Regions from separate parts of the Homo sapiens genome. Here region 2 is linked to region 1. A link means that fine-mapping ties the variant in region 1 to the expression of a gene that starts in the linked region. Tissue or cell type: stomach. Region 1 holds a variant in brackets; the other region holds the start of a gene. All regions are shown on one strand. Distances are between the middles of the regions. Region 1 overlaps SYNRG (synergin gamma). Region 2 holds the start of DDX52 (DExD-box helicase 52).

Region 1 (5,384 bases):
CTGAGGCAGGAGAATCGCTTGAACCTGGGAGGCGGAGGTTGCAGTGAGCCGAGATCGTGCCATTGCACTCCAGCCTGGGCAACAAAACTCCCTCTCAAAAAAAAAAAAAAAAAATGGTGAGCAGCTTCCAAACAGTATAATGCCTGTCAGCAAGATTAAAGGTTAAAGAAAAAGACTTTGGCTGCTTTGTCTTAGAATCATTAATACACAAGCTTCTGATATTCAGGGACATTATTAAGGTACTAACAACTCTCATAGTTTACTTTTTTCTTATTGTTCTGCATATTAGAGACTCTTACTGTTTTTGGTTGTTTCAAACTCTAAAAACATTTTTCAGATAATTGTGTAAGTCATAAAATAATGTTTATGAATATTATTTTAATTATATTAATTACAATATTAATTATTTTAATTATATTAATTACAATATTAATTATTTTAATTATATTAATTACAATATTAATTATTTTAATTATATTAATTACAATAATATTAATTTTAATTATATTAATTACAATATTAATTATTTTAATTAATATTTAATATTAAAATAAAAATTAATGATTTAAAATTTGTATCAATTGTTATTAAGATTCAGTATTAAGCTTAGGAAGTCTTAATTTAAAATACATTGTATTCTATGGTAGATTGTTTTTAGTTATTTGCTGCCTTTCTTCTTCTTTTTTTTTTTTTTTTTTGAGATGGAATCTCACTCTGTCGCCCAGGCGGGAGTGCAGTGGCGCAATCTCAGCTCACTGCAACCTCTGCCTCCTGGGTTCAAGCGATTCTCCTGCTCAGCCTCCTGAGTAGCTGGGATTACAGGCATGCACCACCACGCCCGGCTAATTTTTGTATTTTTAGTAGAGACGAGGTTTCACCATGTTGGTCAGGCTGGTCTCGATCTCCTGAACTCATGATCTGCCCACCTCAGCCTCCCAAAGTGCTGGGATTACAGGTGTGAGCCACTGCTCCCAGCCATTTGCTACCTTTATTCTAAGAGAACTACACATCCCTATGTGGTTTACATTCGTCCTGGTATATTCCTCCCCTATTGATGTTAAGGCCACATTACTTTGGTGAGCAGAAGTGACTAATAAATGCTACCTCCAAGTGTTAGCTTTAAAAGACATCACAGGGTTTGGCCATCTCTTTTTCCTATGCCAAGAGCCTAGGATGTCCTGGCTGAGGGTCTTAGGATAAAGAAAACATGGAGCAGAGTCAGCACTAACCCATAAGGATATGTATCACGAGTGAGGAATAAACTTTTCTAAGTCACTGAGATCTGGGGACTGTTTCTGCAGCACACCCTAGTGAAAGCTAGCTTAACATGAATTAAAAACCTACACAATTTCAATGTATTCCCTTCCTTCTAGAGACAGATAAAAAATGACACTGGAAGTTTTCCTGACCCTTTAAACACAAAACAGAAGCTTTATTTGCATAATCGACTTCAAAACAACAATGGTTTCAACTTAAAATTCTGGTCATGAAGTCCTAATATCACTTATTTATAAGTTATATACATGTGTTACTGTATAAAAGTATATACTGTATAACAAAACACACAGAAATAGAAAATGTTAAAGTATTAGGTAAATAAGTAAACTAACGCAGAAACAAAAAACCAAATACTGCATGTTCTCACAAGTGGGAGCTAAACACTGGGTGCACATGGACATAAAGACAGGCTCGACAGACATTGGAGACTACAAGACGGGAGAAAGTGGGGGAAGGGTTGAAAAACTACCTGTTGGTACTATGCTCACTACCTGGGTGATGGGTTCCATCATACCCCAACCCTCAGCATCACACAACATATTAGTGTAACAAACCTACAAACGTGCCCCCTGAATCTAAAATATAAGTTGAAAAAAGCAAAAATAAGTAAAGTATTAGGTAAAAAAGAAATACAGTATATGGCCTTCAAGATAGCTGTTAATAGTACAAAAGCAAAAACCTTTTTTTCCTCTGGCCTTTTTTTTTTTTTTTGAGACGGGAGTCTCACTTTGTTGCCCAGGCTGGAGTACAGTGGCATGATCTTGGCTCACTGCAACCTCCACCTCTCGGGTTTAAGGGATTGTCCTGCCTCAGCCTCCCGAGTAGCTGGGACTACAGGCACATGCCACCACGCCCAGGTAATTTTTGTATTTTTAGTAGAAACAGGGATTCACCATGTTGGCCAGGCTGG[T/C]CTCGAACTCCTGACCTCAAGTGATCTGCCCGCCTTGGCCTCCCAAAGTGCTGGGATTACAGGCATGAGCCACTGCACCTAGCCTTTTCCCTCACTCTTGGAGGGTGAACACATCTTCATTTTAGTTTGAAGGAAGCCATTTATTTATGCTTATTTCTAATTGTAACATTAAGCTCTTAGCCTGTAGCTCTTGATATATAAACGTAACAACAAACAATAACTTTGTAAGAAACCAACTAAAGAAGCAAGTACCTGCATAGCAATAGGTCCTTGGGACATCTGAGAGCTGTAATTCATTCCCATAATGCCTTGCATATTAGGCTGCATGACAGAGACCATAGGAAATCCTTGTTGCTGCATCGGCATCAGGCCTGCTGAAAATATAAAGACATTATTAAAGTCAATGTGTTTTAAAGTTTATTTTCTTAAAACCATAAGTACCTAAAGGACTTGTTACTTGGCAGGAAGCAGAGTGTAATGGAAAAAGCACAGGGTCCTGAGTGAGACAGATGTGAATATGAATTCCAACTCCATCATTTACTTAGCTGTGTGATCTTGAACAAGTTACAAAACTTCATCTGTAAAATGAAGATAATATCTCTTCTATGGAATTTGTATGCATATTAAAAAACAGTATGGCCTAATTGGGGTACTCAGCCTTCAAGATGGCCTCCAATGACCTCTGTCTCCTGGTATTCATACCCGTGTGTTGTTCCATTCCATACTGAATGGGGCTGATCAGTATAACCAACAGGATACTGTGGAAATGACAGCATGTAACTTCGAAGGCTAGTTATTTTTTTTTTCTTTTGAGACAGAGTCTCACTCTGTCACCCAGGCTGGAGTGCAGTGGCATGATCTCAGCTCACTGCAACTTCCACCTCCTGGGTTCAAGCCTCCCAAGTAGCTGGGACTACAGGTGCCTGCCACCACGCCCAGCTAATTTTTGTATTTTTTAGTAGAGATGGGGTTTCGCCATCTTGGCCAGGGTGGTCTTGAACTCCTGACCTCAACACCCGCCTCAGCCTCCCAAAGTGCTGGGATTACAGGTGTGAGCCACTGTGCCTGGCCTGAAGGCTAGTTCTTAAAAGACACTGTAGTTTCCTCCTGGTTCTTTTGGATCACTTGCTCTGGAGCAAGCCACTGCCACGTCATGAAATACTCAATAAGACCTATGGAGAATCCATGTGGTAAGGTACTGAGGTCTTCTGCCAAAAGGCAGCATGAATTTGCCATCTATCTCAGCGAGCCACCTCGGCAGCATCTCCATGAAACTTTCAGATGACTGCAAGCCTGGCTGACATCTTCACTGCAATCTCATAAGAGGTCTTGAGCCTGAACCACCCAGCAGAGCTACTCCTAGATTCCTGACCGAGAGACACACTATGAAATAATAAAATGTTTACTTTTTAAAGTTTGGGATAATTTGTTACACAACAGCAGATAACTAACAAAATAACAGTTAGGAGCATGAACTCTGGGAGCCAACTAGAAATGACACATACTATTTTGGAACCTTGGGCAATCTGCTTCTTTCTATGCCTTGGTTTATCATTTGTAAAACTGTTTAATACTTACTATGCTCAAAGAAATGTTATTCTTCTTCCTTTTTCTTACATGAATAGGTAATATAACAGTTACCACAAAATAGCCATCAGCATGTGCAATGGCAGAAAACTATCACGAATGTATGATTTAGGCTAGTGTTTCCCAAACTTTTCCAAGAGCAGAGGTGAATGAATATACATCCCTTTGGGATTTTAATAAATACTAAATGCTTATTATATGCTAGGCATAGTTCTATGTGCTTGGTACACAAGAAGTGAATAAAACAAAATCCCTACATAGTCTGAGCACAAATTTCATTCTAATTTTGCATTCAAACTACATCTATGTTGGTTCTACCATAAGGAACTTTATATCAAACTGTCAGTTTGAAAAATTAAAGATCTAGGAAATTATACCATGTTTATCTTATGGTTTTTGTGTACCTCCCAGGTTATTTATAACCTAGCCTAATTTCAGAAGCATGGACATCCACATTTGTGGCTAACAGTTATTAGAGGTAGGCCATTCACTTATTCAAGTATTTGAAGCCTACTCCGTATTAGGCACTGTTCTAGGGACATAGCCATGAACAAAACCAGGTCTTCACTCTCATGGAACTTACACTGTAATTAGGAGAGATAGATAACAAAAAAATAAGTACATGTCAGGTGGTGATAAGAGCTAGGGCAAAAAATAAAGCAGGGCAAGGGGGAATGGAGTGGTTGCTATTTTACATAGGGCAATCAGAAAAAGTTTTACCAACAGGGTAGTATTTCAACAAGAACCTCAAGTAAATAAAGAACCAAGCCATGCAGATGTTTGGGAAAAATATTCCAGACCAAAGAACACCAAGTACAAAGATCACGAGGTGTCAGGGAGAATTAGAATACACAGATTGAAAATAGCCACAGTAAGATGTTTTCCGTCTTATTTCTTTGGACTTAAAGTTTTATTGATTTTAACTGATTTTATTTTATTTCTGAATGGGTAACTCAGATATCTGGCATAATATTTCAAGGCACAAAAGTGTACACAGTAAAAAATAGGTCTCTTTCTCTCCTCTGTCTCCGGTTCAAGTACTCATGATCTTGTGGCCATGACCTTGCTGTCGGTTTCTTACATATGTTTTCAGAAATGATCCATGCATAATTTAAAGCCTTCAAATGATCAAAAAGTCCATTCTAACAACTGTTAAAAAAAAATCTCCAAACCAATTCCAAATTCCCTAAGAAAAAATATCAGGCAACACTTTGGGGTCTCTTCTTGTCCAGTTCCTTTGCTCCATATGCATATTTTTACTTGAAAGTGTATAGAAATGCAAAATAACAAACATGATAATGGACACATAACTCTGTAATACCTTCCTAAAGAACAAAAGATCTCAAACCATTTGATCTCAATCTGGGACACATCTAATTACAGATAGCTTAAATAATGCATAAATGTGAACACGATGAAAAGAATACAACTGAGCCTTGGAAAAACTTACCTGAAACCCAACCACCATCACTGATTATAAATGAAGACAAAGTCAGGATGAGCCACTGACCACCTGCTACTGAGCTGCTCTTTATCTTTTATCTCTACTGCTGACCTAGGAGTCTCTGTTTCTTTAGCAAATCTATGACAACCAATCAACGCTGGCTTT
Region 2 (5,384 bases), 47 kb after region 1:
CTTAATATTATAGATTAAAAAAATATAAACAGCCCTAGAGTACAGTACAAGAAAAAAAAAAAAAAAAAAGGCCAGGCGCGGTGGCTCACACCTTTAATCCCAGCACTTTGGGAGGTCGAGGCGGGCAGATCACGAGGTCAGGAGTTCAAGACCAGCATGACCAACATGGAGAAACCCCGTCTCTACTAAAAAATACAAAAATTAGCCAGGCGTGGTGGGGCACACCTGTCCCAGCTACTCAGGAGCCTGAGGCAGAAGAATCACTTGAACCTGGGAGGCAGAGGTTGCAGTGAGCGGAAAACATGCCATTGCACTCCAGCCTGGGCAACAGAGCGAGACTCTGTCTCAAAAGCAAACAAACAAACAACAAAAAAACAAAAACCTCTGTCAAAATGGGCAAAGAGTAAGAAGAAACAATTCACAAAAGGTGAAATATTAATGTCCAGTAAAGCATACAAAAATATGCTTGACCAGCCAGGTGTGGTGGCTCACGCCTGTAATCCCAGCACTTTAGGAGGCGGAGGCGGAGGCGGAGGAGGGTGGATCACAAGGTCAGGAGATCGAGACCATCCTGGCTAACACGATGAAACCTGGTCTCTACTAAAAATACAAAAAATTAGCCAGGTGTGGTGGCAGGCACCTGTAGTCCCAGGTACTTGGGAGGCTGAGGCAGGAGAATGACGTGAACCCAGGAGGCGGAGCTTGCAGTGAGCCGAGATTGCACCACTGCACCACAGACTGGGCAACAAAGCGAGACTCATCTCAAAAAAAAAAAAATGCTCGACCTCACCAGTTATCAGTAAAATATAAAATTGTTTCAGGCAGGGCGCGGTGGTTCAGGCCTGTAATCCCGGCACTTTGGGGGGCCAAAGCGGGCGGATCACGAGGTCAAGTGATCCAGGCCATCGTGGCCAACATGGTGAAACCCCATCTCTACTAAAAATACAAAAATTAGCTAGGCGTGGTGACACGCACCTGTAGTCCCAGCTACTCAGGAGGCTGAGGCAGGAGAATTGCTTGAACCCAGGAGGCAGAGGTTGCAGTGAGCCGAGATCGCGCCACTGCACTCCAGCCTGGAGACAGAGTGAGACTCTGTCTCAAAAAAAAAAAGTTTCATTCATTAGCTTGGCAAAAAAATTAACACCAATAATATTCAGCACTGACAAGGACTTGGGAAGTCACTTTGTAGTATTTTTCAGAGAAAGGGTACATACCCTTTCACCATATGATGCTACTTTTCGGATGGTATTCTGCAGAAATAACAGTACCTGTACAAAAGGATTTATGTATAAATATCTTTACTTAAAATTACCTTTGCTGTAACAATATTTCTAATGACAAATACCTGGAAACAACCTGAGTGCCATCAGCTGACAAATGACCTTATTGTCTGACTTGTAGCCATAAGCCTGTATTATTTTTATAACTGAAAAAAATTAAAGAGAAAAAACATGACAGAAATCAAACACTAACCTGAAGTCATCGTCTTCCTTTTTTTCTTGCTCTGCTCCCTCTTCCTTTCAGTTAGGCTCTCTTCTTTTTTCTCTCCATTTTGGGGCTTCTGATGTGTTTGTGATGCTCCACACACACCTGGGACAGACTTCTTGTTTCCAAAAAAGTCCAGTCCCTGAAGCACCTCCGAAGAATCAAAGTCATATTTCCTTTTTCCTATCTAAAACCCAAAAAATGTAAAATGAAACCTACTGACAGAATACCATTGCTTTCATTCAAGCAAGACTGTTCAATGACTCCTCATCTTTTCTACCCTTTCACCAAGTATCTGTCGAGCTAACAGGTGTCTGGACAAATGGAATCTGAAGAGACCTTCTCTGACCTCATAATAGTAACAAATTAATATTAGCAATGAACACATATATGCTTACTAAATGTCAAGCAGATTTCTAAGCATGTTTATACATATTAAATTGCTTCACATTTACAACTCTATAAGGTAAATAGCAGTATTACGAATGAGAAAACCAAGGCATTCGGAAATTAAGTAACTTGAGGTAGGTCTAAAAATGAGTAACTGGCAGACTTAGCATTTAGACCCAGATAATCTGGCTCCAGAGTTCATACTCACCAGTTAGAGAAAGAAGAAACACATGTCACACGCATATACACATCCAAACAACAAAGTAGACATTCAAGATTTTCCAGAATTGGGCCCCAATTGACCTCCCCCGATGTATCACTCACTACTTCTCTAGGTAAGAGCCCCCATTTCTTAATCGCTCTTCTCATTGGTTACTTAAGCCATGGGGTTGAAGCAATAAAAAGAATCACGCCCAGTACAACTATACGCATGCCAAGCCAAACTTGGGGAGACTATAGTAAGAGAATCTGTTTTCTCCATCTTTGGTTGTTTCTGTTTTCGAAATTCCTTTCCTCTAGGTTCGGAGAAAAAGTTCCTTTTGAAAGGAGGATTCCAACTTTGCTTTGAATAAGAGGGAGGAAAGAGGGTTTCCGTGCCAGGCCCAACTAGGTCTACAACAGGATAGTTAAAGAGCTTATTCAAAAGGCTTGAACCGAGCAGCCGTGCAGGCAAGCCGAACACAAAAGGAAGCAAAATACCCCAAGGGTGGCGAGAGCCAGGCCACGGGTGTCCAAGTGCGCCGGCCTCCCCCAGCAGCGGGTTCATTCCCGGGCTCCTGCTCCTTCTCAGTTACTCGGCCCTCGGTCCCTTGGGCACAGTACCTGGAATCGAGCTGCGTCTGCCGAGAAGCGTCTCGTGTCGAATTTGGCCCCCGCGCCGAGCCGGCGAAAGAGATCGTGGACGTCCATCTTTACCCAGAAAGCGCCACAGTTCTACGGCGCCTGCGCAGACTACTTCCCAGGCCCCGGGCAGCGTCGGAAGAGGGCGTGAGCATAATTGGCTCCTGTAGGCGGAGCCTGGCTGGGTGAGAAACGAGGCTATTTTATTATCGTGTACTCCGTCATTATTTATCTTTTTTTTTTTTTTTTGAAACAAGGTCTCTCTCTGTCGCCCAGGCTGGAGCGCAGTGGCGCAATCGCAGCCTCGAACTCCTGGGCTCAAGTGATCCTCCCATCTCGGTCTCCCAAACTGCTGGGACTACAGGCGTGTGTAAATTCTTTTAAAAAATATTTATCAGTATCCTCTTATGTTGGGCACTGTTCTAGACTTTGAGGGATACTATAGTAAACAACATCTTAAGATTCCTCTTCTTACGAAGCTTACATTTTAGTAGGGACAACAGATATTGTTAACAAATAAATAAGCAAAATCTCTGTAAAGTAATAAGTGCTATAAAACAAAAAGGTGTAATTGATAGAGAAAATGATGAGGGAGCTGACTTAGTGAAATTCACTCTGTTGAAGTGAAAACTTGAGCTAAGAGGAAGCAACCTGTCCAAGATCTGGGAACAGCATTCCAGATAGGGGAAACACGTGGCTGAAGGGAAAAAAATTGGAACCTTGAGGGAATAGAAAGAATGCCGGTGCGACTAGAGCCAAGTTGCAGTCTGATAGAGTAGTACAGATAAGGTTGGAGGGACAAACAGAAGCCAGATCTCACAGAATCTTGTAACAAGGTCATAGTAAGGAATTTGGACTTCCACCTTGGGAAACTATTTGAAAATTTTTATGGAGAGAAGAACATGATTTAGTTTATCACATTTAATTTTTTATATTTATTACATCTGTACGAAATTATTTACTGCTTATTGCCTCTCCCTCTTCTGGAATGTAAGTCCCTGAGCACAGGGATATACTTTGCTTCGTTATGTATCCCCAGTTTCTGTGCACTTTGGTGAATGAATGCGTGGATGTTTCATAAAGGATTACACTGGCTATTTGGAGAATGGACCATAGAAAAGCTAAGAGTGGAAACAGGTTAGTCAAAGTAGAATGATGATCATGGCTTGTCTAGGTTGGTATCTGTGCTGAGAGAGATAAATGGATTAGATCTGGCATGTATTTTGGAGGTAGAGCTAAACGTACCTGACGGATTTTATGCAGAGGTGAGAGAAAGGGAGGAATCAAAGATCACTCCTAGTTTTTTGGCTGAGTAGATGGCATGCCATTTACTGAGCTAAGAAAGCCTGAGAGAAGAAGGGCTTTCTGGTACAAGTGAGATACGGAGGATGGAATCAATTGTTATGTTTTGGACGTGTTAAGATGCCTACCTAGTTGACTTTAAGTGGAGACATCCAAGTAGGTAGTTGGTTCTGAATCTGAAGCTCAGGAACAAAAATTAGGGCTAGAGAAATTAATTTGGAAGTCATCAACATATAAATGATACAAAGGAGTTGTACCATATAAGCATTTAACTTATAAAAATTCAGTTATATGTATTTGACCAAAGAGAATGAAACATACTTGAAATTGTATGGGTGAGTCCTTTACAATCAAGGAAAGCAGGTGTGAGGTGAGCATGTGATGGGGGAGGTGAATCTGCGGTTTCTCAGATGAATTCAGCCCCTTACTCCCTATTACAGTGGGTCGGGGGGTGGTCTTCCTGTCCCAAGTGTGTCTACTCTTTAAAAATAGGAACTTCCCAAGTACTTCATCTGTTGTTCAATAAAAATAATTTATCTTCAGCCAGGCGCAGTGGCTTATACCTGTAATCCTAGCACTTTGGGAGGCCAAGGTGGGCAGATTACTTCAGCTCAGAAGTTTGAAACCAGCCGGGGCAACATGGCGGAACTCCATCTCTACAAAAAATTAAAACATTAGCTGGGTGTAGTGGCACACACCTATAGTCCCAGCCACTTGGGAGGCTGAGGCAGGAAGATTGCTTGAGCTTGGGAGGTTGAAGCTGCAGTGACTTGTAACGGCACCACTGCACTCCAACCTGGGTGACAGAGTGAGACCTTGTCTCAAAAATAAATAAAATTAATCTATTTCAACATAAGAGGAAAAACTCAATATTAGTGTGTTGATCTTCAGTTTGGCACATAAATATGGCCATAGCCATATATAAAATTAATATGTATGAAATGGCAACTACCATACTTTGTGGATGACTTAGGGAATTTAAAAAAAAATTCAACTTTATGAGATTTTTTTTTTCTTTATGAGCTGATTTAGAACCTAATCCCTATGTAAGTGGTAACAAACCCATCTCCAAAAGCATGAGCATGAATGTGATCACTTAGAGAAAATGTGTGAATGGAGAAGAGAAGGGGACCCAGGACTGACCCTATGGTACTCTAATGCTTGGAGATGAGGTGGAGGAGGAGACACCTGTAAAACAAGAGTCTGAGAAGAAGCAAGTGAAGTAGAAAGCAAGCAGTGAGGTAGGAAGACCAGGAATTTGGTGTCACCAAAGCCAGACAGAAGTTTTAAGAAGGTAGTGATCAGCTATTTCAAAGGCTGTTGAGAGGCTGAAGACAGAAAAGATCACTGCATTTGGCAACGTGGAG

The links. PIP is the estimated chance that this variant, and not a neighbour inherited with it, causes the effect.
Region 2: it holds the start of DDX52, and the variant in region 1 is the best candidate, but not a certain one, in a credible set for the expression of DDX52 in stomach (GTEx, PIP 0.83).

Annotation. Positions count from the first base shown.
Region 1 is chr17:37,593,783-37,599,166 of GRCh38, forward strand. It overlaps SYNRG (synergin gamma), which reads right to left. Exons shown (of 22, transcript NM_007247.6): 3 at 2,441-2,562. Among named protein-coding and RNA genes, the nearest start is that of SYNRG, 13 kb to the right of the region's middle. The variant T/C (reference allele first, on the strand shown) is at 2,189.
Region 2 is chr17:37,640,637-37,646,020 of GRCh38, forward strand. DDX52 (DExD-box helicase 52) reads right to left here and starts at 2,810. Exons shown (of 15, transcript NM_007010.5): 1 at 2,698-2,810; 2 at 1,474-1,672. The coding sequence starts at 2,784. LOC105371756 (a long non-coding RNA gene) reads left to right here and starts at 2,302. Exons shown (of 2, transcript NR_188617.1): 1 at 2,302-2,900. RefSeq lists an enhancer at 357-857.